Regions from separate parts of the Homo sapiens genome. Here all the other regions are linked to region 3. Evidence: fine-mapped expression QTL. A gene starts in region 3. Each other region holds a variant in brackets. All regions are shown on one strand. Distances are from middle to middle.

Region 1 (4,000 bases), 83 kb before region 3:
TGTGGTGGATACTGTGGTATGCTGCCAAGGTCTCCCCCTAAGGGCTGAGGCTCTCACTTTCCCAGCTGCCAGGTCTGCTGACAACTGAGGGCTCACAGCTGAGTCCCTCTTCAGGCATTGCCTTCAGTCAAAAGCTGCCTCACCCAAGCATATGCCCCTTCCCTGGAAAGCCCACCTCCAATGACTGTTCTACAAGAGTTACAAAGGTACAGCCTCCTTTTCCTCAGTCTGGGATAATGTTCAAGTGCTATTCTAGCCCCAGAACTCCCCCAGGGGGTTGGCTGAGGCCTCTGCTGCAACAGCAGCAGAGTGATTCAACTTCTCCCTCCACCCCATCCTGCTTCCCTCACTCCCTTACAGGTATTTTTCCTGAGTGCACACCCCTGTAAACCTTCTGCACACAAATTTAGTTCTCCAGAATCTGTTTGCAGGAGAAACTGACCTATGGCAGTCACAGAGCTTGAACACAGCGGAACTGGGATTCTAATTCAAATGGGATTGACTCGGACACCATTACTCTTTCTGTTCTTCCACAATGCCTCTGCCTTGCCTTTGATCAGTCATGGTGGGTTAGGGTCTGGGGATCCCCAGGTGAATATGACACAGGCCTTGTCTTTAGGATATCCTATTCCTCTGGAAGAAGCAGTTCCTCAGGAACAGGGTGCCAAGGGCAGAGCAGATGCTGGAGGAACCCATGGGCAGCCCCACTGGCATAGGCTATCTTGGGATCTAGACCACAGCAATGCCCCTGCCAAAGGTCAACAAGACAGGTCCTCTGCTCCAGGCTCAGAGCCTACAACCTCCAGAGAGGATCTCAGCCAGCAGGGCTTACAGCAGGCACTGCTACATGAGTCCCCTGCGGTAAACATGGACCAAAAGCCACCTAGGTGTCTGTTTTTTTGGAAAAGGATGTAGAATTCCCAGTCCCTGGCTGGGTCCCTGCAGGCTCAGCTTAATTCTCAGCTCCTTGAAGGCCTAATATCCTCTTAAATGTCCTTCTTCCAGCTTCTCCTGAGGTTTGGCGCTGCTCTGATGACCACCTTTATCTTTTCTGCAGTTTCTCTCCATTCTCTCCTGTGGCTCCGCCTGTTCCTGGGAGTCTCAAGAAACTCTCCAAACATACTCGCCCTGTCTCCTATGATTCCACTGCCCAGTGCCACTTCCCAGGCCTCTATCACGCCTCTCAGATGCTCAACAAGTATCAGAAAGGAGAAAGGGAGACAGGAAGGAAAGGAGGAAACAGAAAGGGAGGAAAAGGGAAGAGCAGTTGTTGAGGGAAATGTGAAGAAAGATCAAATGATAGGGATGCCCTATATTTATCTGTTTTAATGTCTCAGGCCTCCAAAGCATCATTTAGTGTTTCTCCAAACACTGTCATCCTCCAAGGCAGGTCCCTTGCCTTCAGTTCACAGCTGGAAACACTGGGCCTCAAGAAAAAGGGAGAAAGCTTTCCTGAGTACATTCCGAAGCAGCAGCAAGTGATTCAGATCTTGGGCATCCTAATTGCCTGGCAATGCTGAGACCCTGGGTGTGAAGTACTAATGGGCAGATTCCACCCACGTAATGATCAGAGAGTGGTGAACAGATGCTTGCAGGCAGATCAGAGCCACATCAGCAGGAGCGGGAGTCACTCCAGGCATTCTTCACATCCCCTGCTGGCTTCAGGTAAGGGCCGCTGGGCCTCAGGAGAGGCACAGTTTCTGGGGGAAACCACAGCCCTGGTGCCTTCAGGGAACAGAGAGTACATGCACTCTCTGCTATCCAGCGCTGGCTTCAGAGGCTAAAAGGCTGAGGCCTAGCTCCAGCTCGTCCTCCTATTTGCTATGTAGCCTTGGCCAAGTCTCTTTCCTATTCTGGCCTCCGTCTTCCTGCCTGTAAAATGTGAAGGGTGGATGCAGTGGTTTCTGAGGGACCTCCAGAAGGGAGACCTCCAGGATCCAGGGCCCACCAGGTGAGAGACACACGTGGACCAGCCCCACATTGAGGCTCACTCAGTCCC[C/T]TCATGGGGTTGAACACCAACCTCGAAAAACCAGAGGCAGCTGGAGCCCCTCAAGGTACCTGGCCTAGTCCCCCTCGATTTCCTCCAGGTCTGTGCATCTAGACTCCTGGTTCTGGGGCTGGGCCCTGAACCTCTCTTAGCTGTAGAAGAGGAGGAAGAGAAAGACTAACACTTGCTAAGCACCTCTTCTGGGCTGGGCACAGAACCATTGGCTTTTACACACATTTCTTGCTGGGATCCCCCCAGTGAGTGGTCTTATCCCCACCTGAAAAATCTAAGGTTCAGGGAAGTTAAGTAACTTGCTCAACATCACCCAGCTCTTGGTTGCCAAGGTCAGAATTCCAGCCTGGAGCAGTGCATGTTTACCTTTGCATTGTCAGAGAAGTCATTTGCCATCAGATCCCATCCCTTTCCTCTCCAAACCAAAGATCCCCTGTGCATTTTGGAAGAGGAAGACAGCATGTTGCCCTGAGAATCCAGGTTTCAGGGCTCATGTGAGAGGAGGTCAGACATAATGGAAGAAACCCAGGCTCTGGGGGCAGCAGCCTTGAGGTTGGGTCCTGACTCTGCTACCTGCTAACTAGGTAAACTTGAGCAAGTTATAACCTCAATTTTCTTATCTGTAATGAAAGGATATTAATATCTGCTGCATGGAGTTGTTGCAGTAATTGAGCCTGACAATGGATATAAAAATATCTGGCATAGAATATGTGTTGGATAAATACAACCCTCCTTCCATTTCTGCACAGCCCAGCTTCTCTTAGGCTCAAGTTCTGATTCTCTCTCATATTTTAAGCCCTGAGGGATGGGCTTGGATACATTTACTCTAGCAAAATGTCTCTATCATAAAGGCAAGCTCAAGAAAGTGGTTTTCTTCCTCTGCCCCCGGCCACAGAACCCCATCAAGGAGGCACAGTGCAGGCAGTGGCCTCGGAAGCAGAGCTGGCCATAGCAGGCGCTGCCTTCCTCCCCCAAGCCTCAGAGCTTGCCATCTCTATGCCTTCCCCTTCAAGCTGAAAGCTGGCACACAGGCACCACAAGCCAGATGTTTGAGTTTTGTTAAGAGCAGCTTAAATAAAGCTTTTAGAACAATAATTCTCAGCCATCAAAGGGACATTTCTCTTCTGGCTTCATCTCTGACACACAGGAGATTTTTAAAAGAAGAAACAGGGGAGGAAAACAACGCCTCTACAAAGCAGGAACATTTTTAAAAGCACAGCGATTTTGCCATCATGCTCTAGCCTTTCTGATATCTCCAATGAAAGAGGAAAGGAATTTCGTGGAAGAGCCAATTTTTCCCAGCTCTTGGCACACATCTGGAGCCCCAGAAGTGTCTGGGGGAAGCTGAACAGGTGGTGGCCATCTGACAAGCCCCCTAAGGCAGAGTTTAAAGAGACATACACTTGGATGACATTGCCAAGTTGGGAAGTTTGCCTCTCTCTCCCTTCTGACACCTCTTCTTCTCCCAATCAAGACTTTGCCAAGAGTGTGCTTTAGGAAGGGACAAAGCCCACCCCTCCAACTCCATGCAAGAGGGCACCTGGGAGAGGGACCTGAGGCTGGATGCCCCTTGTAGCCTAGAGTTCTCCTTCCCAAGGAAGGTGATAGTAAAGGGAACACAGAAGGTAACACCACCCAGAAGGTTGGCATACACATGGTTGCAAACGCTTCCAAGAGCCAGGTACAACACATCATTGTCATGGTATAAGTATCTACTGCTAGGAGTTGAAGACCAGATTCCTAGAGACTCTGCTAAGCCTGACGTAGCTTTAAAACAAACCCTGCCTGGTAAGAGCCATTGGAGGAATCACCTGCTCAAAAATGAAACAAGGCTTTCAATAATGATCAAATGGCTACCATCAGATCTGTCCTCCCTCAGATAACAACTATAAACTCTGGAAAAGATATTTTAAAGCTACTTAAAGGCACTGGTGAAACAAAAAGCAGGCAAAAATGGAAGGGAATTGACACTTGGAAGAATAGCAATGGGTGGACTTAATG
Region 2 (4,000 bases), 27 kb before region 3:
GTACTGTAGTGGCATGATCTTGACTCACTCCAACCTCTGCCTTCCAGGTTCAAGTGATCCTCCTACCTCAGCCTTCTAAGTAGCTGGAATTACAGGCGTGCACCACCACACCCAGCTAATTTTTGTATTTTTAATAGAGATGGGGTTTCACCACGTTGGCCAGGCTGGTCTTGAACTCCTGACTTCAAGTGATCCACCCACCTCCGTCTCCCAAAATGCTGGGATTACAGGTGTGAGCCACCACACCCGGCCTTATGACTACTTTTAAGAGGTATTTATAATTTATATTGACAGGTAACTGATTACAATATCTGACATGAAAATTCTTTAGACCAAGATCATTTGTCTAGTTTTTGATAGGGAATTCTTGGAACTCAATGAAGTATTTGTTTTTTGTACTGCAGCAGAACTCAAACTGCTATCTAAGAAAAAATTTAAGTGGTATTATTCTAAAGCAAGAGTTTTGGTTAAACACATCAAATTTCACATCAGGATATCACTTTTATATCTGCTACTTGTATGGTTTCATAAAGTTTATGACTCTTATTTAAATCAGAAAACTTGCTTTAAAACAAAACAATACGAAAACAATCTCCCCTTTTATCTCACATCATTTTAAAATTACTACCCCCTTTCACTGCTTCACTTCACAACATAACCGCTCAAAGAGTTGTTTACCCACCAGATGATTACATCATTACCTCCCATTCACATTTTTTAAAAGTTCCTTGTTAAATACAGAATATACTCAAAAGAATATTTATATGTATGATATAAAGAATAAATGCACAAATAAACAAATGTATCCATGTACCTACCACCCAGCTTAAGAAAGAGATTACTAGAACCTTTGAAAACTTCCCTGATCCCATTCTCTGTGAAAACACAACATATCAAAATTTTAGCATCCCTAAAGCAGTACTTAAAGAGAAATTTATATCACGAAACACCTATATTAGGAACGAAGAAAGTTCTCAAACTAATGACCCCAGCTTCCACCTTAAGAAACTAGAAAAGGACAGGGTCTGGTGGCTCGCTCCTATAATCCCAGCACTTTGGGAGGCCAAGGCAGGTAGATCACTTGAGCCCGGAAATTCAAGACCAGCCTGGGCAACACAGTGAGACCCCATCTCTACAAAAAACACAACAATTAGCCAGGTTTGGTGGCACACACCTGTAATCCCAGCTACTTAGGAGGCTAAGGTGGGAGGACTGCCTGAGCCTGGGAAGTCAAGGCTGCAGTGAGCCGTGACCATGCCACTGCACTCCAGCCTAGGTGACAGATCGAGACTCTGTTTCAAAAAGAAAAAAAAAAAAAAAAAACTAAAAAAGGAAGCACAAATGAAACCTAATATAAGCAAAAGAAAGGAAATAATTAGGATGAAAGTGGAAATTAGTCAAATGACAAATGTCAGAAATGAGAAAATTTATATCACTACAGATTCTACAGATATTAAAAAGAATAACAAATGAATATTATGATCGACTTTATGACAATAAAGTTGAAACTGTTGATCAGAAGTTAGTAAACTTTCTGCAAAAGGCCAGTTAATATTTTTCAGGCCATACCATTTCTTTTCCAACTATTCAACTCTGCCACTGTAACACAAAAATAGCCACAGACAATATATAGACAAAT[G/A]AGTATGGCCACATTCCAACAAAACTTTATTTACCAAAACAGGCAGCAAATCAGATTTAGCTCATAGATAGTAGTTGATGATCCTAACTTAGATGAAGTGGACAAATTCTTGAAAGACTACAAACCACTAAAGCTCACTCAAAAAAAACAAAACCTTTATAGCCCTACGTCTATTAAAAAAATTGAATGTGTCATTAAAAGCTTTCCCACAAAGAAAACTCCAGGCTCAGATGGCTTTATTGACAGTCTACCAACATTTAAGAAAGAAATAATACAAATAATACCAATTCTCCACAACAACTTTACACTTTCAGAAATTTGAACAAGAAGAAAAACTTTCCAATTCACTCTATGAGTACAGCATTGTTCTAACACCAAAAAAGATAAAAGCATTACAAGAAAAAATATACACAGACCAATACCCCTTATGAATACATATGTAAAAATTCTTAACAAAATTTTAGCCAATTAAATCAAATAATACATAAAAAGGAGAATACACATAGTACCATTATTCACAATAGCCAAAAGGTAAATGCAACACGTTTCCAATAATAGACAAATAAAATGTGGTATATACATACAATAGAATATTATTCAATGGTAAAAAGGAAGGAAATTCTGGCACATGCTACAACATGAATGAGCCTTGATGACACTATGCAAAGTGAAATAAGCCAGACAAAGGACAAAAACTGTATGATTCCAATTATATGAGATACATAGAGTAAACTCATAGAGACAGAAAGTAGAATGGTGGTTACCCAGGGCTGGGGAGGTGGGTAGGGAATGGAGAGATATTGTTTAATGGGTTCAGAGTTTCAGTTTTGCAAGGAAAAAAAGTTCTGGAGATGGGTGGTGATAATGGTTAGACAACATTGTGAATGCACTTACTAACACTGAACTGTACACTTAAAAATTGTTAAACTGTAAATTTTATGTTATGTATATTTATCACAATTTAAAAAATAATTTTAAAAAAATGTAATCCATTAATTTTTTAAAAAGTAAAATGCATTATAACTAAGTATGGTTTATCCCAAGAATGTAAGGTTTGACATTTGAATCAATCAATGTAATTTACTGTACGAGAAAACTAAACGAGGGCTGGGTGCAGTGGCTCAGGCTTGTAATCCCAGACCTTTGGGAGGCCAAGGCAAGCAGATCACCTGAGGTCAGGAGTTCGAGACCAGCCAGGCCAACATGGTGAAACTCCATCTCTACTGAAACATACCAAAATTACCCTGGCATGGTGGTGCATGCCTGTAATCCCACCTACTCAGGAGGCTGATGTAGGAGATTCGCTTGAACCTGGGAAGCAGAGGTTGCAGTGAGCCAGGATTGCGCCATGGCACTCCAGCCTGGGCAACGAAGTGAGACTTCATCTCAAAAGAAAAAAAAAAAAATCATATGATCATCTCAATAGATGCACAAGAAGCATTTGGCATTTATTCTCGTGTGTGTGTGTGTGTGTGTGTGTTTTGACAAAAAACAACAACAACAAGAAGTTTTACTCTTGTCGCCCAGGCTAAAGTCCAGTGGCACGATCTCGGCTCACTACAACCTCCACCTCCCAGGTTCAAGCAATTCTCCTGCCTCAGCCTCACGAGAAGCTGAGATTGCAGGTGCCTGCCACCATGCCCAGCTAATTTTTTTATTTTTAGTAGAGACAGTTTCACCATGTTGGCCAAGCTGGTCTTGAACTCCTGACCTCAGGTGACCCATGCACGTCAGCCTCCCAAAATGCTGGAATTACAGGTGTGAGCCACCACGACCAGCCTGGCATTTATTCTTGATTAAAAACTGTCAGCAAACTAGGTGCAGAAGGGAGAACTTCCTCAACCTGATAAAAACCTATAGCTAACATCATACATAATGGAGAAAGATTGAATGCTTTCCCCCTAAGATCAGCGATGAGGAAAGGATGTCCATTCTCATTATTTCTAGTCAACATTATACTGGAGGTTCTGGCCCATGAAATAAGGGAGAAAATTTTAAAATATCCATATTGGAGAGCAAAAAGTATAACTGTATAGCAGACAATGTAATCACTTATATAGATAATTCAATGAAGCCTATAAGAAAGCTAATTGTGATTTAGCAAGGTTGCAGAATTCAAGATCAATGTACAAAAATAAAATATATTTCTATATATTAGCAACTAACAATCAGAAATGGAAATTTTAAAAATAGCATATACAATAGCAACAAAATACATAAAATATATAGAGATAAATATGGAAAAAAGTATGTGAGGCTCATATACTAAGATCTATGAAATATTGCTGAGATAAATTCAAGAAGACTCAAATAGATAAGATGATATTCATGAGTTAGAAGGCTCATTATTAAAATATCAAC
Region 3 (4,000 bases):
GTCTTGAACTCCTGGGCTCAAGCAATTTGGCCACCTCAGCCTCCCAAAGTGTTGGGATTACAGGAGTGAGCTACCACACCCGGCCAAAAAAATTTTTTTATTGAGGTCTAATTCAACAGTCTTCAGCATATCTCAAGACTGCAGTATTTAGCTCACAGCCTTGGCTTAAAGATACACAAGTTCTACTATGCTTCTAATTAAGGCTTATTAAGGTTTATTAAAGTCAGCAGCATCAGCTCACCATCTCATCGAGCAGCACATTGCCATCTTTGGTGAGTTTGATGTCACCTGCACCAGAAACAAGCCTGTTCAGAGAAGAATGATATTAACTTCATGTGGTAGGAAGACATTCCCAGTGCTTGCCACTCCATTATCCTTAATAGAGGGAACTGGGCTCGGAAAACTTCCACTGTACCATGGGAATATGCCATGGTAATTACCACCATTTGCAGCTCACAGAATCATTTCTCCCCAGATGGACAGATTATGGAGATTTCATTCCAAATGGACTATTTACAGGTTTAAAGATAAAAGCACTTGATGAGTTACGAACTGTGGTTTGGTCAAAGAATACTTGGAAGTCTACAAAGCACAAATTCGCAAATTTCCTGCAGGTTTTAATTTTGGTGAATGTTTTCATTCATTCAGTCACTCAACTTAGTTTCCCTCATCCCTGCATTTATTAGATCACCAAGTTCTATCAATTCTACTACCTAAATATCTCTTGAATCTGCCACCTTCTCTCCATCTCCACTGTTATCATCTCTACTTTGGATGGCATCCGGATATCTCCAAACTTAAATATACCCTCCACACATTTTTCTTTCTAAAAGGCAACGTGATTCAGTCAGTTCCCTGATCAAAAGTCCTCCAATGATTTTTATGTTTTCCATCATTTTCAAGTTAAAATCCAAACACAGCAATGACATACTTGACCTTTCCCAATATCTTCCCTGCCTCATCTACTTTTCCACAAGCAAATCTTCTGGTTCCCTTAATATACCATGTTTTGTTTCGTTTCTGTTGGATTTGCACCATTGGTCTTTCTTATTCCTGAAATTACTTTGCCCAGGCCTTTACTCCCTCTTCCAACTAGTGAAGTCTTATTCTTCTTTCAAGACTGATCAAACATGTTACTTAAGATGCTTTTCCTTCTGCCATCAGTCCCTTTCTTCAGCATAATTATATGCATCTATATATAATTAGCACATCCTACTCTACCACATCCGTCTCTACCACATCTCCTTAAGAACAGAAACCGTTATCTTGATCATTTCTGTGTCCCAACAACTGGTACCTAAGTGACTTATTTTACCATTAATATTATTTTGTTCATTACTATGAGGATGTGTCTCTCCTCTTATACCCTTTTGCCCTCACTGGTCTCTTTTCCTCACTCTTGTCTATAGAAAAGGGTGCTTAATATATACTGAAAAGATGAATAGATCTGAACAACCATAGACACGGGGTATTCAAGTAGAACTTGGATTTGACCCCATGCCTTCCTGGCTCCAAAGCCTGTGTCCTCTCCACTACAATACATTGCCATACAAAAAACAAAACTACTTGTTGAATTTATGGACCAAGGGTATACAGTCTTAAGGAGCAGAGGAGTTAAATGCTTTGTTTCCAATGAGACACTAAATTAACTGACTTTCTAACTGCATATGAACCTTGACGACAAGTCGGGGGTCGGGGAAGCGCCACAGCTTCACTCCCGGGGCCCTCTACTAGGGGAGGCTTTTCTCCTCCACCTGCACCAGGCGAGAAATACCCCCAGAGCAGGGATGAGAATGAGGGAAATCAAGCTCGCAAGAACATCCACAGCGCTACGCGGACGCCTGCCTCAGAGGGCGACAGGACACCAACGGGCCCCTAGCCGCGTAATGGCCGCTCCAACCGCTGTCTCACATTTTCATGGTGCCTTTAGGACCCAAGTTGGTCCGCAGCACATCCTGCAGCCCTCGGGCGGCGCATATATTGACAGCCAAAGCTGCCCGGGCCCGCGCCACCTCAGCCTTGGAGTTGACGGCCTTTATCGCAGCCATAGCCTAACCGTTCAGAGGGAGAAAAAAAAAAAGCCTTAGTCGCGATTCTGAGCAAAAACGGCAATGCGACGCCACGCTCTCTTGAGCCTCGGCCAATCATCGCCCTTACAGGAAGTGACGTTATCATGCCTCGCCCGACGGAAACCAGAATCGTTTTGGGTCTGGTCGCCAAGATGGCGTCCTCCGCCTCCGCCCGGACTCCGGCAGGGAAGCGAGTGATAAATCAGGAAGAATTGCGGCGGTTAATGAAGGAGAAGCAGCGTCTGAGCACCAGTCGGAAACGGATAGAATCTCCATTCGCGAAGTACAACCGTTTGGGGCAGCTGAGTTGTGCCCTGTGTAACACTCCGGTTAAGAGCGAGCTCCTGTGGCAGACTCACGTCCTGGGAAAGCAGCACCGAGAGAAAGTGGCCGAGCTGAAAGGCGCGAAGGAAGCCAGCCAGGGTTCGTCCGCCAGTTCAGCGCCTCATTCCGTCAAGAGGAAAGCGCCGGACGCAGACGACCAAGATGTCAAGAGAGCGAAGGCCACCTTGGTGCCTCAGGTACAGCCCTCCACATCTGCGTGGACCACCAACTTTGACAAAATAGGAAAGGAGTTCATTAGAGCGACTCCCAGTAAGCCTTCAGGACTCAGTTTACTCCCCGATTATGAAGATGAGGAGGAGGAGGAAGAGGAGGAGGAAGGAGATGGAGAAAGAAAAAGGGGGGACGCCAGCAAGCCGCTCTCCGACGCACAGGGCAAGGAGCACTCAGTTTCCTCTTCACGGGAGGTAACAAGTAGTGTGCTGCCAAACGATTTCTTTAGTACTAATCCTCCCAAGGCCCCCATAATTCCTCATTCAGGGTCAATTGAGAAAGCAGAAATACATGAAAAAGTGGTGGAAAGGAGAGAAAACACCGCGGAAGCGTTACCGGAAGGTTTTTTTGACGACCCTGAGGTAGATGCAAGAGTACGAAAGGTTGATGCTCCAAAAGATCAGATGGACAAAGAGTGGGACGAATTCCAAAAAGCCATGAGGCAGGTCAACACTATTTCCGAAGCCATAGTTGCCGAAGAGGATGAGGAGGGACGGTTGGACCGCCAGATTGGGGAGATCGATGAGCAGATAGAGTGTTACCGACGGGTGGAAAAGCTACGGAATCGCCAGGATGAAATAAAAAATAAACTTAAAGAAATCCTGACCATAAAAGAACTGCAGAAAAAGGAAGAAGAGAATGCTGACAGCGATGATGAGGGGGAACTACAGGATTTGTTGTCTCAGGATTGGAGGGTGAAAGGGGCATTGTTATAGGGTTTTAAAGACCCAAGGTTTCTAACAGCCTCTGCTGTTGTATAAAAAGTGCTGTCTCTCAGTAGTATAGCGGTTACTTCATGCCTCAAGATTTGGGTACCTGGATTGCTAAACTGGATTGTTGAGATAAAATGAGCCAGTGAGCTACAGCACTTTGGAAAATTTGTGTAACATGTTTTTGAGGTAAAGTTGTTTTTGAAATTTCTGAAGTGTTATATACCAAAATGCCAACATTTCCACGACAGACTTAACTGTATAATTTCGTTGTAAAATCTGTAAGTTGTAAATATTGTACATAGTTAAATCTGTATTCTGTTTTGAATTTTTTTAATTAATAGAAAGACCAACCGGCAAACTTTCAGATGAATGCTTACTGTGGTATTTGGAATGTATGTATCTTCTGAACCCTACATCAAGTTGAAAAGGTTTGTTTTCTTGTTTCTTTGGTTTTTGTATGGTTTTTTAGAACACTTCATAAACACATAAGTCATTGTAGGTTAATCAGTTCTCTTAGTGTGCTTTATTTTAAAAACATAAGAAAACTATATGCCAAACATGACCAAACCAATGATGGTCAGATGTGGTTGCACATGAGAGTCACCTATGAAGCATTAAAATAATTAAAGTGTCTGAGGCCTTCCCCTTCAATAAATCTGGGAT
Region 4 (4,000 bases), 120 kb before region 3:
GAGGAATGGCCAAAATTGAAGACTTAGAAATTACTAAGTGAAACTGGCCAGGAGTGGGCTCACTCCTGCCACCCCATGGGGCAGTGTAGGCAGTGGAAGAGCCTAGAAGAGGAGTGGAGGAGGCCACCCTGCAGGATATCAGAGCCTCCCTGGGCCTCACTGACCAAGGGCTATACAGCTGATCATCGGCCCAGGCCAGAGAGAAGGAGGGTCCTCCCACCCTGCTGTGAGCACAAGGGCCATCCCTAGCAAGGTGGGAGAAGAAGCTGAGGGTCCAATCAGTAGCTCCATGCCTCCTCGTCCCTTCCTGGGGTGGCCTGTTTCTGTGTCCTGCAGAGTGAGGCTGGGGGCTGGGAGCTCACCCTCCTCTTCACATGCACTACTCCGATTGCAGCCAAACTTCAAGGGTCTCTCAGGCCTCCAGGCCCACGGAGGCTGGGTCATTCTGCACTAGCTTTCTGAGCACTTCCTGCTCTGTCATTCCTCCCCTGAGCACAATAGGCTTAGAGGGTTGGGTCCACGTTTTCTCTTCTCTTATGTATGCCCCCTCCCCTAACCTTCCTCTCTTCCGTATACACACACTCCACCAGGTAAGTGTGGGGTCTGGCCATTCCACACTGACAGCTTCCCTTCCTCTCCACTCTCCCTCCTGACACCCTGGCACCCACCCTGCCTTTTGCCGGGAGACGGGAGTGTCTAAGTCACAGTGGCCCAAGACCCATCTAGAACAACCACAGTTGGGCATCTCCTGGGCATACCCAACAGGGAGAACAAAAGAGCCCTGCAGGGGAGTCAGAAGACCTGGTTCTCGCCCCAGTATTACTGCCACCAACTTGCTGTGTGACCTTGACCCCTTGCTGGCCCTCTCTGAGCCTTATCTGTAAAATGTAAGGATTACATGAGATGGTCCTAAGGTCCTTCTTTGCTCCAACATCCTGAGTCCCTCACCACCAAGGGAAGCTGAAAAGGAGAGAAGAGAGCTGGCCCAGACTGACCCCCGGGCATTGGCCACGCAGTGTGTGGGGTAATGTTGGGGAGGTGAGCAGAGCTGATATAGGCCTCTGCCTCTGCTCCAAGCCATCCAGGAAAGACATGGTCATGGGGGTAAGAAAGCAAAGCCTCACCCTGGTTTAATTGCACAGTTAATTGGAAATATAGGCCAAGGTTAACTTAAAGGAAAGAATGGTGCTTATTTGGGTGGTTATGCAAATTTATTGCTGCAAAGACTTCCAGGGAAACTGATTATCTGACTATGTGAAGAAACAAGATTAAGAATGAAAAGGGGGAAGACTCTATGTTCTGCAATTCTCAGGACCACCCCCTTAGAAACTGGATCCTCCATCCCTCTCCTAGCCCCACAGAGCAGAACAAGTTCTTCCCACAGCACAGAGATGGCAAACAGAGGCCTGAAGAGCATGGGCACACAGCCGGTTAGTGGCACAGCCATTTGAGACCTGCCCTGTCCCAGTGACCTAGGAAGCCCTGCCCTCCTTCTCCAAGGAGACAACTTTATCTCACCGTCCTGCTACGGGAGGTGAGGAGGACTTCTGTCTGCTCTTCCTTGGAAGGAGGGGTGTGGTGTCCAGCCTCCAAGACAGCCTGGCTGATCCTCATCTCCTGATATTCATGCCCTTGTGTGGTTCTCTCCCACAATGTGTAACCAAGGGGTTATCGCAAAATGACAGTGGGTGACATCCAAGGCCAGATCATTGCACTTCCACCTTGTTCTCTCTTACTGGCTCGGGAAAGCCAGCCGCCATGTTGTGAGGACACTCAAGCAGCTGTAGAGAGGTCCAAGTGGTGAAGGACTGAGGTCTTCTGACCATAGCACCACCTTGCCAGGCATTGAGTGAGCCATCTTGCAATGGAATGAATATCTTAGGG[C/T]AGATTCTCCAGCCTAAATCAAGCCCTCAGACAACTGCAGCCCTGGGCCAGCATCTTGACTGTAACTTCAGAAGAAACCCCAAGCTAGGCTGTTCCCAAATTTCTAACCCAAAGAAACTATGAGAGACAATAAGTATTTGTTGTTTTTTAAGCCACTTAGTTCTGGGGTAATCTGTTATGCATCAATAGGCAACTGATGCAAGGTGGTGTTTTAAAATGTGCATTTCATTATTTTTCAGGTGTGGTGAGGCTAACAGATTAGGAGTGGCTACCATTGAAAAGATGGTTTGTTACCGTTCCCAAGGGGAGGGGGTATGCCAAGCCATGCAGGGGCCACATGGGAAGCCAGGGCTGTTCGGCAGGCAGAGGGAGCAAGATGAAAACATGGGCAAATGCCTTTATTGTGGTCTTTACAGGAAGGGTGGGTGAGGCAGGGTAAGCAGGCTCAGGATTGGCTGGTTTGCATTATTTCAGCGAGTTCTGAGATGTAGGGGCCATCTCTAGTTGGGGTGATTAGGGCAGAGGAATATCAGCATAAGAGCATGATAAAGAAGGTGGTTGGGGTAGGGACTCTCTATGAGTTGGTTTGCATAGGAAATGCACCCTCTAGGAATTGGCTGGCAATGGGAGAGGCAGTCTCTCCAAGGTCAGCCAGGCCCCAGACCACAAAGCATCAGAAACACAGAAAATAAAAAGGGAGAATAGGCCAGAGCAGTAGGGACCCTCCTTCCCACAGCTTGGCTTCCTCTTCTTGGGAGTCCATGACTTCAAGAAGCTCAAGGGACTGGGATGGGGAGGTTGGGGGCAGGAGAAGTGGGGTGGGAGGCTGGGTTCTTATGGCCGGCTCCAGAGAGACAGCAGCAGCCCTGGACATGGGGTGATCTCCATTCCACTAGCTCCTCCTCAGCCACCTTCTAGGTCCTGTGGCCTGAAGATCAAGTCCATACATCCTAGTATAGCACACGAGGCTCACCCATAGCCTGTCTGGGGCCTGCCTCTGTGGTCTCATCCCTCTCCCACCAAGGATTCCAGCCCCAGCCCTCAACCCTGCCCCAGCCCATGACCCCTCCTGTCTTCTTCAATGGGCCTCTCATATTCCCTGAACAAGACAAGCCCTCCTGGCTCTCCCCAGCTCTACATATGTTATTCCCTCAGCCTGGCATGTGCTCCTCCCCTGTCACTTGGCAAATTCCTGATTGAAACCTCAGCTTGCAGGCAGTCCCTCCAGGAAGTCCCTATGGCCCCAGGTAGGCTAGGTCCCTCCACCTCAGCACCCACAGCACTTGGCGATGTATGGCTTCACCTCCTGCGTCTCTCCCTGTGGAATCCGAGTTCCTGACAGGAGGGACCGTGTCTTACTCATCCTTGGGTCTTCATCAACCTTGGGCCTTTATCATCCTTGGGCCTTTCTCACATGGCACTGGACCTGATATTCAGTCTGGCATTCCCAGTAAAGAACTTTGTTAAATGAATGAATGAATACATAAGCAAATGGGGCCTTGAGCAATTCACTCCTGCTCTCTGGGGCTCAGTGATTCACCTCTAAAATCAGAATCATCATCAACATCATCATGATCACCATCCCTTCCCTGCTCACCTCACAGCCTGTCATAGCAATGCAGTGAGACAAAGAAGGTACGTGAGCTATGTAAACTGTGAAGTGTGGTGCACCCATGAGGGGGGCTTTCCTTAACTCTCCTGGGACCTAGCATCACTGCACTCTGCATGGCTGCTCTCTCCCCTAGCCCAGGTTTCAGGGAACTTCCTAGGACCTTCTGGGAAGAAGGCAGAAAATTGCCTCCTCCGGTTCTCCCTCCCTCCCTGTTCTTGGAGCAAGTCTGCTTCTGCCCCTTCCCAGCTTCCTCAACAGCAAGTGGAGATCCCTGCAGCCACAGTCTCCCCTCTCCTTTCATTCTTCCCCTCTCTCTTTTCAACAAGCAAACTTGAGAAATGGTAACCATTTTCCCCATTATTCAAATGCATGGAAATTACCTACTTGGCATTCCTCTTTGACATGGAGCCTTTAATTAGCCACTGGCTCCCCAGTCCCCGGGTGTTTCTCTGGCTCTGCAGCTCCCTGGCTTCCTCACTCCCCTCCCTCCATTAGCATCCTAAT
Region 5 (4,000 bases), 160 kb before region 3:
CACGTTGCACAAAGGCCAAGGGGAGAGTGGTGTTTGTGGGGTTGAGGGAGAGGGACCCATTACCCACTTAATTCGAAGCCACAGCCAGGCTGAGATTCCCTCGCACAGTTCCCAAGGTCTGGCTGGTGGCTTAGTGGGCTCTCCTGATCAGCACCTAGGACAGCTCCACCCATCGCCCAGGATCCTCACTGCTCTATCCGGGCCCAGCCGCTTCTGTCCCACCTACCTCCCCAGCCTCCTCGCCTTTCCTTGTGCACCACGTGGGCTTTGTGTCCATTCCTCACTCTTGCCAAGCCCTTCCCCATCTCAGGCGCTTCTGATACCACCCCCTGGAAGTTTTATCCCACTTTTCACAGGGTTCCTGCTCGTTCTGAATATCTCAGCCTCAGCCTCACTTCCTCAGGGAGGGCTGCATCAAAACTGCAGTTCAAATTAAATCTCCATAGATGCTATCTCATTCCTTCATAGCACAGATTGTGGCTGTCATGATATATAGATATTTGTGTGATTACTAATGTCTCCTTCTGCATTAGAATAGGAACTCCAGGGGCAGGGTTCAGACCAGTTCCATTTACCATTTTATATCCGGGACCTAACATCAGACCTGGTTACACAGTTGTTGGATGAATAAATTAGTGAGCCCCTTCTGAATGCAGGAACTATGCTAAAATATAGTCCCTTTCATGGAATAACTTAGAGTTTCATTGGCTAGTTAAATTCCAGTTTAGCTGGAGTTAAAAATAATCTAATCCCACCCCCCCACCCCAATAAAGGAAGTCTTTATTCGACTTTATTCTGAAGCATCAAATCATTCTATGATTAGGTGATGGACCCAGGGATAGAATCCAGCTCCTCAGTTTTCCAGTCAAGCCCAGTCTCACTGTGGCTTCTTCCCCCTGTGGTTCTGTTAGTTTATCTGCCTGTTAATGGCCACACACATACCCCCTTCCATTATCCCATCAGCCCTGCTTGGGCATTGCTATTGATGGCATTTAACCCCCTGGGGTTTCTGTTTGCTCTGGCTCTACCCCATTGCTGCTTTCCCAGAGAGTCTGTCTGGGCCTCCTCAGCAGCTCTGAGTGTGGACAAGAAGGAAGATTTAATGTTACTGCTTTGGTCTTTTGTTTCTGCAAAGCAAACCCTTCCCCTGCTGGGAAACTCATCATCACCAAGCATCAAGCTCAAGCTGAGTTCCACTTAGCTGTTTGCAAATGGCAGTGGGGTGGGTGGAGGGTGAGCAGAAGGCTTGTAGTCCAAGGAGGGGGAACACAGTGTTTGTGAGAAAACACAATGGTAGGAGGACTGTTGGGGAGGAAGATGAGGTTTGTGATGAAGACTGGCTGACTGTGAGAAAAGAATACACCAGGGCACAGGTCTGCCTTGCCCACAATCAATCCCTGAATTGACCATCTTCTGATCACAAGCATGGACATTGGTCAGTACAGGCTTTGGCACAATTCCCATGGTACATCCTAGGCAGCTCTCAGCCTTCTATGAGTGGACTGATTATCTCACCAGCTGAGAGTCCCTGGGAATTCTTCTAATCTCTATGGGCTTCACTTTACTCATCCTGCAAATGGGAATGCTTGCAAAGTTGCTGTCAGTATATAACAA[G/C]ATCATTCATACACACACTCAGGGAGGGCTTCACACATCATAGGATGCACAACAAACATGCTCTCCTCCCTGTAACAAGTATTTAGCCTCGCTTGCTCTCTACTTTGACCACAACTTGCCCAACAGCAGGGCTCACCCATTGTGGCTGGCCCAGGACTAGTGGAGAGGGATGGGGTAGGTGGCGGCCATGCTAGCACTCTGTGTCTTCATCTATCCCTGCACCTCCTCCAGCCCCATGCCTTCCTTCCTTGTTCATTCCAGTCATCAGTGTTCTCTGAACTGCAGGCAGAGTAATGTATTCCGTGGTCAGAACGTCTTCTGCTCCCTGCTGCTGCCATCTCTGTCTTGGTCTCCCTCCTCTCCACCCCATGAGCATGAAGACAAAATACCCATAGATGAGATGAAAAGGATAGAGGTAAAAAAGGACAGAGCAGAAGAAGGGGACCAAGTCCCCCCACCGTCTCAGCTTCCCTAATTGAATGACTCTCCTACCTGACTCTCCTGTCGGCTCCCATGTTCCTTCATTCTCCCTGATGGCCCTGAAATCATCTCCCCCATCTCATCAAATCTCTCCCCCTTCCTCCTGCTTGTTCTCTAAGCCGCAGATTACTTTTTCATAAAATTCAATTTCTAGCCATTCTCATTACTTACTCACTTAATGTGGCGGGGAGGGGGAGCAGAGGAAGACGAGGGAGGGAGATGGTGTCTGTGCAGCACTTATCCAGCCTAGTTACCAAGGCCCCTCGCTGAGGTGTATTAGAGTCTGATAAGACCAGATAATGGACTTCTGTCCCCACACAGGGAGCTGGCATTGGCGTATTCGGGTATTGCGGCATCATGTCGGAGGGTGGCAACACTTACAATTGTCATCCGTGACTCCTCTCTTGCTGGGAAGAGTCCACTGGGAAAGCTATTTGTTCAACAAATATTTTCAGAGAGAATTTTATTCACCTGTCACCCTACTAGGCACTGGGAGCACAGTCATAATAAAGAGGGGTCTCTCTCCCAGGCCCAGTGGTCAGGGAAGAATTCGGGAGGAAGAGGCATAGAAGAAGATCTGAATAGGAATTATATAAGCTCAAAGAAGAAAACAAGTATCTTAGTTTGGGTTCCCCTTTAAAAAGGAGCCTGAAACAAGGGCTTCGGGGCAGATAATTTACTTGGGAGATAATCCCAAGAAACCAGAGGGAGGGAGTCAAATGGGGAGTGAGACAGGGAAAAAGAGAAATCAGTAAAGATAGATTAAGTGAGTTACTTCTGTAGAAAACTCCAGACCCTCTGCATAACCACATTGAATATGCCACAGAATTATCCCTTAAGGAAGGAGGATAGGACATTATCCTCTGACTCCTGTCCCCATTGTTTGAGGGTTAGCCCCAGTGGTATTCATTTCCCTGCACTTTCATTATGCTTGTACAGGCTGAGCAGCCTTCTCAGACTTCTGAGAAAGCCCTGAGTCTGAAAAGCAGAGAGATACCACTTTGCATGCTTGGGATAAGATGCTGGCAGCATGCCCAGAATTGTCTACCACAGTTGCACTGAAATCAGATCAATGAAGGGAATGTGGTGTGGGGCACACAAAGTGTCTGCTACAGTCCACCCCTTGTAGAGCTCAGATCTGCCTGTGACCCAAAATAAGTTCACCTTGTTGCTGAATTTTCAAGAAAAGGCAGGCCTTAATCTCTATTTTCTAAAACGTTCTTCAGACAGGAAGGTTAATGTGTCAGGGTACAGTTCCAACAGCTACAGCAGGTCCTGAGAGATATCCATCCCCCATGCCCTTTACCACTTACTCTATATTTCCTTTACCCTCAGCCTACCTGATTCTGCCAGCCTGGGTCACTTGCTCAGTGAGGTACCCAGACCAACATCCATGAGACAGGTAAGGGGGGTGAGCCCCTGGTTGCCTCAGTCCCATTAGGCTGTTTTTGCTGCAATTACCTATTCACTATTATCATCAGGTATGGAAACATTAAGAGATGCGCCAGTGAACCCCCTGAGTTCCAGACAGAGTCTTCCCCATCCTGGTTAGGTAGCAGCAACCCCAGCTCTTTGTGAAAATCGTGGTCAATTACTCCGACCTTCTTTTTGCTAGTCCACTGACATGAAGGATTCAAAGTGACCAGGGATCACTCAGGGTCAGTCACAGTAGAACTCTACTGTGTCTCCCTGTAGAACCGGAACCTGGCCTCCACCAGAGCCTAGAGTTGGGGAGACAGAAAGCACATCTTCTTCTTGAAGGTTATTGGAAGTGATGATAGATGGACCCAACTTGCTTCCAACCCTTGTTTCCCAGATGTATATTCTAGCTCTCGGGGGACACAGCACCATGCATGAACCATTGGTTCAATGCATACCACATCCTGGAGGTCAGTACCACAACCCT
Region 6 (4,000 bases), 47 kb before region 3:
CAACCAGTTAAGTGGCAGAGCTGGGATTTGAACCAGGTAGGCTGGCTTCAGAGTCTGTGTTCCTAATTATTAGGATGCACAGGACAGGAGCCTGGACAAAGATGGCTTGAAGAGAAGCAGATAGAGCAAGGGGTAGGTGAGAAGGCTCAGGGGACAAATGTTGCCTTTCATACTATTTTCTTTCCTTTTTTTCTTTTTCTTTCTTTCTTTTTTTTTTTTTTTTTTTTTTTTGAGACAGAATCTCACTGTGTTGCCTATGCTGGATGGAGTGCCAATGGTGCCACCTCAGCTCACCGCAACTTCTGCCTCCCAGGTTCAAGCGATTCTCCTGCCTAAGCCTCTCAAGTAGCTGGGATTACAGGGGCACGCCACCTCATCTGGCTCATTTTTATATTTTTAGTAGAGATGGGTTTCACCATGTTGGCCAGGTTGGTCTCAAACTCCTGACCTCAGGTGATCCACCTGCCTCAGCCTCCCAAAGTGCTGGGATACAGGGGTGAGCCACTGCGCCCAGCCTATTTTCTCCCCATAAAATTCAATGGTGATGCTATCCATTTGGTGCTTGGGAAGTTGACACAGTGCCTTTCTATCTGATCCTTTCAACGACTCTGTAGAGTAGGTATTATCATCATCAATTTATAGATGAGGACATTGAGATTCAAGAAGTTAAGTAACCTTACTAGGGATGGCAAAGACAAGATTCAAATACAAGGTTTGTCTGTCTCTCCTTCCCATGCTCTTTTATTCATTCAAAAGGCACTTATAGGTACCTGTTTAGTGGCAGGCAGTGAGCTAAAAGTATTTGAACATGGGAAAGACACTGCCCTTGGAAGGATCCCTTGGTGGTGCCCCTCTCACTTGCACCCTACACACAGACCCATAAGGAACAGTCATCTTACTCTTGGCTGAAGCACATGAGCAGGGGTGAGGTGGGTAGGGGCAAGGGAGCATTCATGAGATCCTACTGTGTGCTTGGCATTTTTCTTGCATTCCATCACTGACCCCTTCCATTAGCTCAGCAGGGTAGATGAGGCTGAGGCTGCTTTACCTGTCTGGCGTCCTTCTTCCTACCTTCTCAGCATGAGAACCCTGGTTTTTTTGCCAATGAGCCTAACTAAAGACTACATTTTAAAGCCTCTGTTGCAATTAGGTGTAGCCATAGGGCTAAGTTCTGGATAATGAAATGTCAGAGGAAGTCATTGTGTGAGACTTCTAGAAAAGCTTCTTAAAAGGAAGTGAAGGCCGGGTGTGGTGGCTTACGCCTGTAATCCCAGCACTTTGGGAGGCCTAGGTGGGCAGGATCACCTGAGGTCAGGAGTTCCAGACCAGCCTGACCAACAAGGTGAAACCCTGTCTCTTCTAAAAATACAAAAATTACCCGGGCGTGGTGGAGTGCACTTGTAATCTCAGGTACTCAGGAGGCTGAGGCGAATTGCTTTGAACCCAGGAGGTGGAGGTTTCAGTGAGCCAAGATCACGCCACTGCACTCCAGCCTGGGTGACAGAGCAAGATTCTGTCCCCCTGCAAAAAAAAAAAAAAAAAAAGGAAGTGAGACTGCTGAGGTGGGCCCTTTCTATTCTGTTATAATGGCTGAAGGTCCAACAGACATTGCAGATCATTAAGGCAACTCTGAGGATGAAAATTATGTGCCCGGAAGAGTGGAACAAAACAATTAGAAGCCTGGGCCTCAAATAATAGTGAGAAACCACTATACATAAATCCTGATTTCCCTGTCTCTGAACATGAGAGAAAAATAACCTTTTTTTTTTTTCGAGAAGAGTCTTGTTCTGGTCACCCCAGGCTGGAGTGCAGTGGCATGATCTCAGCTCACTGCAACCTCTGCCTCCCAGGTTCAAGCAATTCTTGTGCCTCAGCCTCCTGAGGAGCAGGGATTACAGGCACACATCACCATGCCTGGGTAATTTTTTATTACCCAGAGACAGGGTTTCACCAAGTTGGCCAGGCTGGTCTCGAACTCCTGACCTCAAGGGATCTGCCCACCTTGGCCTCCCAAAGTGCTGGGATTACACGCATGAGTCACCATGCCGGCCCCGAGAAAAATGAACTTCTGTGTTGCTTAAGTTAATATCATTCCTGATCTCAACTTCAGGCAGCCCAATGCATGTCTTGACTTATACAGTAGCTTTACCATCATTCCCATTTGGAAACAGGCTGACAGGTTGCCCAAAATCCAACAGTTAAGAAGTGTGATTCAAACTTGAATCTTTCTGGTTCCAAAAGCTATACTCCTCCAATCCTTCTGGTAACAGCCCTTGGGAAAATTCACTCTCTTTAACTCATGAGAAGGCACAAACACTACAGTAGAGTTTAGAACAGCTGAAAACCTTTACATCCCCTGCTCTTGTCTCAGAGATG[C/T]ACATCAGAGCAGACTGTCTTACACCTTACCTATGCACTCTAGTAGGTAAGTTAACCATATACCAGACAGAAGGGAGATTTTTAATTTCCCAGTTAACATCTCCTCTGCCTCCAAATTCCAAGTTGCCAGACTCTTTCAGGGATCCCATAGAAAATGCTATAAACTCACTCTCATGCAAACTTGACAACATGCTCTTTTCTCAGGAATACTTATATTTATGAATTCCTTAGAATTTTCTAGACACTGGATCATGTTGTCTGAAAATAATTTCCCATTCTTGCCTAATGGCACTAGCTAAAACCTCTAGTACTATGTTGAAGAAGTAAGAGTGGGCAGCCTTCCTTTGTTCCTGATCTTAGGTAGAATGCATTCAGGCTTTCACCCTGAACTATGATGTTTTCTGTAGGTTTTTTGTAGATGCCTTTTATCAGGTTAAGGAAGTTTCCTTTATTCTAAGTTTGAGTTTTTATCATAGATTTTGTAAAGAATTTTTGTGTGTATATTGAGATAATTGTGTAGTTTTATCCTTTATTCTACTAATTTGGTATATTATATTAATTGATTTTTGGATATTAAACCAACCTTGCATCCCTGGGATAAATCCCACTTGGTCATATTATATAATCTTTTTTATATGATGCTGGATTTAGTTTGCTCATATTTCATTAAAGAATTTTGTTCACATATTGTTCTGTAGTGTTCTTTTCTTTGATATCAGGAATACTTGCTGTGTCAGAAGCCCACAAGACCACTTCTGGGTTCAGTGGATCAGAACTCAGCATGTAGTTATACTTATGGCCATAGTTTATTACAGAGAAATGATACAAAGCAAAATCAGCAAATTATCCCATCTGGCACATGGGATGAGTCCAGAGGAAAGTTAAGTGCAAATTTCCAAGGTCCTCTCTCGTGGAGTCAGGCAAGATGTTCTTAATTTTTCCAGCAACAAATTGACAATGTGTAAAATGTTGCCAACCAGGAAAGCACATTAGAAACCCAGAGTCCAGGATCTTTTTTAGAAGCTGATTATATAGGAACTACATGCCTACATACCCAAATGTACCCAAAATTCCAGACTTCCAAAAGGAAAGCAGGTATTCAGTATAAATAATACTGACAGTCTGAACATAGGGTAGTGAGAACACTCCCAAATCCAAATTCCCAGATATCAACCAAGGACCAACCTTGAAAGCAGGCCTTTCAAAGGATAAAACCTGGGCCTGCTATAACTCTTTTCTACATACTTGCTTTTAAAACAAAAACCCAGACCAAAAGAAATACTAATGTTGGAATTTTAGCCACAGGAGGTAGGAAGTTTGAATGTCGGGACATTCTTGGTACCTTCAAACTATAGTCCCTTAGCTTACCCCCATATGGGTGTAAGGTTAAGCCTGCATCTCTAGAAAGTTTAATGTGATAATAATAAAGCAACAGAAAAGGGATCTCACTTCATGTCACGCAGTGCTTAGGCAGAAATATTTTTCCTGAACTGTAGGAAAAATGGCTTTATAGGCCTTGTGGCCTTTTGGCAACATTAGGCCCCCCAAACTGCACATCTCATCAGTCACAGTTCTGGGGCAGAGATTGAAAGAATGCCAAAGGGGGAAACAGGAAAGCACACAC
Region 7 (4,000 bases), 33 kb before region 3:
TCAAAAAAAAAAAAAAAAGAAAAAGAAAAGAAAAGAAAATCTGAAACAAATATGGCAAAATGTTACTATTTGTTAAAGCTAGGTGGAGGGTACAAATGTGTTTATTATATTACTTTCTGTCTTTTTGGTATATTTTAAATATTTCAAAATTTAAACAATGTTACACAGAAAAGATCTGGCCATATGCATGGTAAGCCCATTTTAAAAGGCCTATCCTATAGAATAAAGACAAGTTTAAAAAGGAGATCTTTCTTTATAACAGCAAAAAAAAAATTGAAAACAGAATTAGTAAAATAAATTGTGGTATAACCATACAATGCAATGCTATGTAACCATAAATAAGTGATGGTTCAGAAGTCTGAATACTAGGCCAGGTGTGCTGGCTCATGCCTGTAACCTGAGTACTTTGGGAGGCCAAGGCAGGCAGATCACCGAAAGTCAGGAGATTGAGATCTGCCTAGTCAACATAGTGAAACCCCTTCTCAACTAAAAATACAAAAATTAGTCAGGCGTGGTGGTGTGCACCTGTAATCTCAGCTACTAAGGAGGATAAGGCAGGAGAGTCACTTGAGCCTGGGAGGCAAAGGTTGCAATGAGCCGAGATCATGACTGCACTCCAGCCTGGGTGAAGAGTGAGACTCCATCTCAAAAAAAAAAAAAAAAAAAAAAAGAAGAAGAAGAAGTCTGGATACTGCCTTAGAAAGATGCTGACAGCATATTAAGTGGAAAAAACAGGCTATAAAATTATAGGGTTAAAGGAACCTTCTCCTATATGCACAAACAGGCCAAAGTTCCATTAATGCACCTGCCATATTTTAGTCTCTTATCAACTACCATCCACGGAAAGAAGTTAACCACAAGAACTCTAATAAAAATAAAAAGCATAATAGATTAATTCTAGAGTTTCAAACAAGAAAGATATTGCTATAATATCTATACTGAACAGTTGTATTATAAGCCAAAAATAATTATTTCCCACCATTGGTGTCAATAATTCTCTTTCCAGATGAGACCTGTTCTATCTCACCATCTAGACAGAGAGCTACCAGAGCTAGCACAGTGGCATAAATTGTTGATCATACATACAAAAACAGCCAGATAAAATATAATAAATGATATACAAAATAAATTGAGTCAGATATTATAAACAATGCAACCCAAAGCTACACGCCATATTTATAAGAGGAAAGAGTGGCAGCAAAAAGTCACTGAAAGAATTTTGAGAGAAAATGAAACATTCTGTCCTACTATATTTATACCCTCTGATAAATTGGAAATTTACTTGGGTGTACTAAAACCTCTATTTTGTTAATTAAAACTTGTCAAAAGGTCTAAGTATCATAAAGATCCTATGCTATAAAAACTGCAATAGCATATAACAAAGAGTGGGGAGTTAGGACTCTTGGGGAAATATTTAAATATTATTCCTTTACTGTAAAAGTATTTATTGTGTTCTTTATACCTTGATGAAATATTTTTGAGACTATTAAGACCCAAAAGACATAAACTGCATTTATTGTGTAGAAATTCAGAATGGCTCAGGCTACACAATAGTAGTCAGATGTAAAGTGTACTAAATTTCATCTTCTAGAAGGGTTGATTTTGAATTCAATCAT[C/A]ATTTGAGAGAAGACATCCCAGCTCGCATAATTTCATCAACCAGGAGAATGTTGGTGGCAATCACTGTGCTAAGGAAAAAGATGAGAGGGTGAGTAAAGCCTACTAACCCACTCTTAGCTTTTTTCCCCAGCAATCTTTACCTATGTAGGGTACTTTGTTCTTTAATGATGTTAGTATGATGTTTTATGAGACAAGGCTATTATAAATACAAATACAAATGTCACCTTTTTTTTTTTTCCCAAGATGGAGTTTCACTCTTGTTGCCCAGGCTGAAGTGCAATGGCAAGACCTCAGCTTACTGCAACTTCTGCCTCCCAGGTTCAAGCAATTCTCCCGCCTCAGCCTCCCGAGTAGCTGGGATAACAGGCACCCACCAACACGCCTGGCTAATTTTTGTATTTTTAGTAGAGACAGGGTTTCACCATGTTTGCCAGGCTGGTCTCGAACTCCTGACCTTAGGTGATTCACCCGCCTCGGCCTCCCAAAGTGCTGGGATTACGGGTGTGAGCCACCGCACTGGCCCAAATGTCACCCTTTGTATTATAATTTAAACTCCTTTGCTGATAAAGTGCATTCCTGATTTATATTTCAGCAAAATTGAGCTTATTTTTACAATATCATTTGATTTTCTCCATCATGCATGTGCTATTATTTCAGTAAATTTCCCCTTTTCTTTCCCCCTCAAATAGTAAGGTTAATTTTTCTTAGAACTTAACACTGCTAGATCTAAAATATAAAAGGGACTATGGACTATAAAATGACAGAAGCTAGTTCTAATAACTGAATACCACACCTTTCATACACTTGACAATTTTTCCACTGTACAGGGACAAAAATAATAGAAAAAATTTCATCTTAATATTATCAATTATAACTCTACAGGTCTTTCACTTTATGTTCATATGAACTTACCAAGAGTGAAGAAGTTGTTTTTTTACACAATAATTATCCCAAACTCCTGCATCTGCTGCTACCATTGGCTCACCTGAAAAGTAAAAACAATTTTCATACCAAAATCTTAGTATTTGCTATTAATATTAATTGATATCTTCTAAAAATATTTAATACATTACCAAAACTACTTTTGTCAAGGTCATCAATGACCTCCATATTGTTAAATCCAATGGTTGATTCTCAGACCTCATCTACCAGTATTTAACACAGTTGATCACATTCTGCCGCCTACTCTATGTTATCTTCCAGGATACCACACTCTTCTGGTTTTCTTTCTTTTGCATTAGTGGCTCCTTTTCTGATTACTTTGCTGCTTCTTCCTCTTCCTCCCTGACCTCTTAACGTTGGAGTACCCAAAAGTTCAGTCCCAGCCTCTTTTCTCTCTACCCTTAATCCCTAGGTGATCTCATCCAGACTTTTAGATTTAAACCATACACATCTGATGACTCTCAAGGTTTTTTGGGTGTTTTTGTTTTTTGTTTTCTTTCTTTTTTTTTTTTTTTTTGGTGTTTTTTGTTTTTGTTTTTGAGACAGAGATCTTGCTCTGTCACTCAGGCTGGAGTGCAGTGGTGCCATCTCGGCTCCCTGCAACCTCCACCTCCTGGGTTCAAGCAATTCTCCTGACTCAGCCTCCCAAGTAGCTGGGATTATAGGGGCCTGCCACCATCCCCGGCTAATTTTTGCATTTTTAGTAGAGATGGGGTTTCACCATGTTGGCCAGGCTGGTCTTGAACCCTTGACCTTTAGTGATTCACCTACCTTGGCCTCCCAGAGTGCTGGGATTACAGGCGTGAGCCACTGCGCCTGGCCTGACTCTCAGGTTTTAATCTCCAACCCAGACCTCTTCCTTGAACTCCAGACCCATATATCCAACTTTTTTAATTAAAAGATTACAGATGCTTCAACTTTGACTCTGCCAAAACTGAATGCTGATGTCCTCTCACCCACAACCTGCTCCAGCCAGTATTCTCCACCACAGTTGATTGCAACTCCAACCTTCTACTTGTTCAGTTGACTTCTCTACAAAGTGGAGAGTGGCCAGAGTGATTCTCTTAAACATAATTAGGCCACATGCCTGGCCAACATGGTGAAACCCTGTCTCTACTAAAAATACAAAAATTAGCCGGGCGTGGCAGCAGACACCTATATTCCCAGCTACTCCGGAGGCTGAGGCAGGAGAATTGCTTGAACCTGGGAGGCAGAGGTTGCAGTGAGCCAAGATCGTGCCACTGCACTCCACAGCATGGGTGATAGAACGAGACTGTCTCATAAATTAATTAATTAGGCCATGTCACACCTCTGCTCAAAATTGCTCCCTGCTCCTCTAAAGTAAAAGCCAAAGTCCTGAGACTGGTCCAAATGCCCCTGCATGATCTGACCTTCTGTCACCTCTCTCACCTCCTTCCTCAGAAACATCAGACACTGGCTT

Alleles and levels. Positions count from the first base shown, and alleles are read on the strand shown. Sizes are in standard deviations (SD) of each study's normalised expression. Not every link is listed here.
For the expression in vagina of the gene that starts at base 2,115 in region 3, allele T in region 6 goes with a lower level than allele C (small effect, 0.31 SD a copy in GTEx).

What was found. PIP is the estimated chance that this variant, and not a neighbour inherited with it, causes the effect.
Region 1: its variant is the best candidate, but not a certain one, in a credible set for the expression of CCT6B in prefrontal cortex (GTEx, PIP 0.69).
Region 2: its variant is the best candidate, but not a certain one, in a credible set for the expression of CCT6B in left ventricle (GTEx, PIP 0.66).
Region 4: its variant is the best candidate, but not a certain one, in a credible set for the expression of CCT6B in whole blood (INTERVAL, PIP 0.90).
Region 5: its variant is the best candidate, but not a certain one, in a credible set for the expression of CCT6B in blood mononuclear cells (TOPMed, PIP 0.67).
Region 6: its variant is the best candidate, but not a certain one, in a credible set for the expression of CCT6B in vagina (GTEx, PIP 0.71).
Region 7: its variant is the best candidate, but not a certain one, in a credible set for the expression of CCT6B in whole blood (TOPMed, PIP 0.86).

The regions. Positions count from the first base shown.
Region 1 is chr17:34,876,025-34,880,024 of GRCh38, forward strand. All of the region lies in intron 2 of LOC105371742 (a long non-coding RNA gene), which reads right to left. Among named protein-coding and RNA genes, the nearest start is that of CCT6B, 83 kb to the right of the region's middle. The variant C/T (reference allele first, on the strand shown) is at 2,000.
Region 2 is chr17:34,932,830-34,936,829 of GRCh38, forward strand. All of the region lies in intron 10 of CCT6B (chaperonin containing TCP1 subunit 6B), which reads right to left. Among named protein-coding and RNA genes, the nearest start is that of CCT6B, 27 kb to the right of the region's middle. The variant G/A (reference allele first, on the strand shown) is at 1,640.
Region 3 is chr17:34,959,346-34,963,345 of GRCh38, forward strand. CCT6B (chaperonin containing TCP1 subunit 6B) reads right to left here and starts at 2,115. Exons shown (of 14, transcript NM_006584.4): 1 at 1,912-2,115; 2 at 242-305. The coding sequence starts at 2,048. ZNF830 (zinc finger protein 830) reads left to right here and starts at 2,195. Exons shown (of 1, transcript NM_052857.4): 1 at 2,195-4,000. The coding sequence starts at 2,222. The coding sequence ends at 3,340. RefSeq lists a silencer at 1,645-1,939 and enhancers at 1,659-1,708, 1,809-2,028, 2,079-2,158, 2,239-2,488.
Region 4 is chr17:34,841,580-34,845,579 of GRCh38, forward strand. All of the region lies in intron 2 of LOC105371742 (a long non-coding RNA gene), which reads right to left. Among named protein-coding and RNA genes, the nearest start is that of CCT6B, 120 kb to the right of the region's middle. The variant C/T (reference allele first, on the strand shown) is at 1,885.
Region 5 is chr17:34,797,730-34,801,729 of GRCh38, forward strand. All of the region lies in intron 3 of LOC105371742 (a long non-coding RNA gene), which reads right to left. Among named protein-coding and RNA genes, the nearest start is that of CCT6B, 160 kb to the right of the region's middle. RefSeq lists a silencer at 68-268 and an enhancer at 778-1,477. The variant G/C (reference allele first, on the strand shown) is at 1,615.
Region 6 is chr17:34,912,240-34,916,239 of GRCh38, forward strand. The region is part of intron 2 of LOC105371742 (a long non-coding RNA gene); the gene reads right to left. Among named protein-coding and RNA genes, the nearest start is that of CCT6B, 47 kb to the right of the region's middle. RefSeq lists an enhancer at 1,351-1,410. The variant C/T (reference allele first, on the strand shown) is at 2,377.
Region 7 is chr17:34,926,433-34,930,432 of GRCh38, forward strand. CCT6B (chaperonin containing TCP1 subunit 6B) reads right to left here. Exons shown (of 14, transcript NM_006584.4): 13 at 2,530-2,602; 14 at 1,429-1,685. The coding sequence ends at 1,616. Among named protein-coding and RNA genes, the nearest start is that of CCT6B, 33 kb to the right of the region's middle. The variant C/A (reference allele first, on the strand shown) is at 1,617.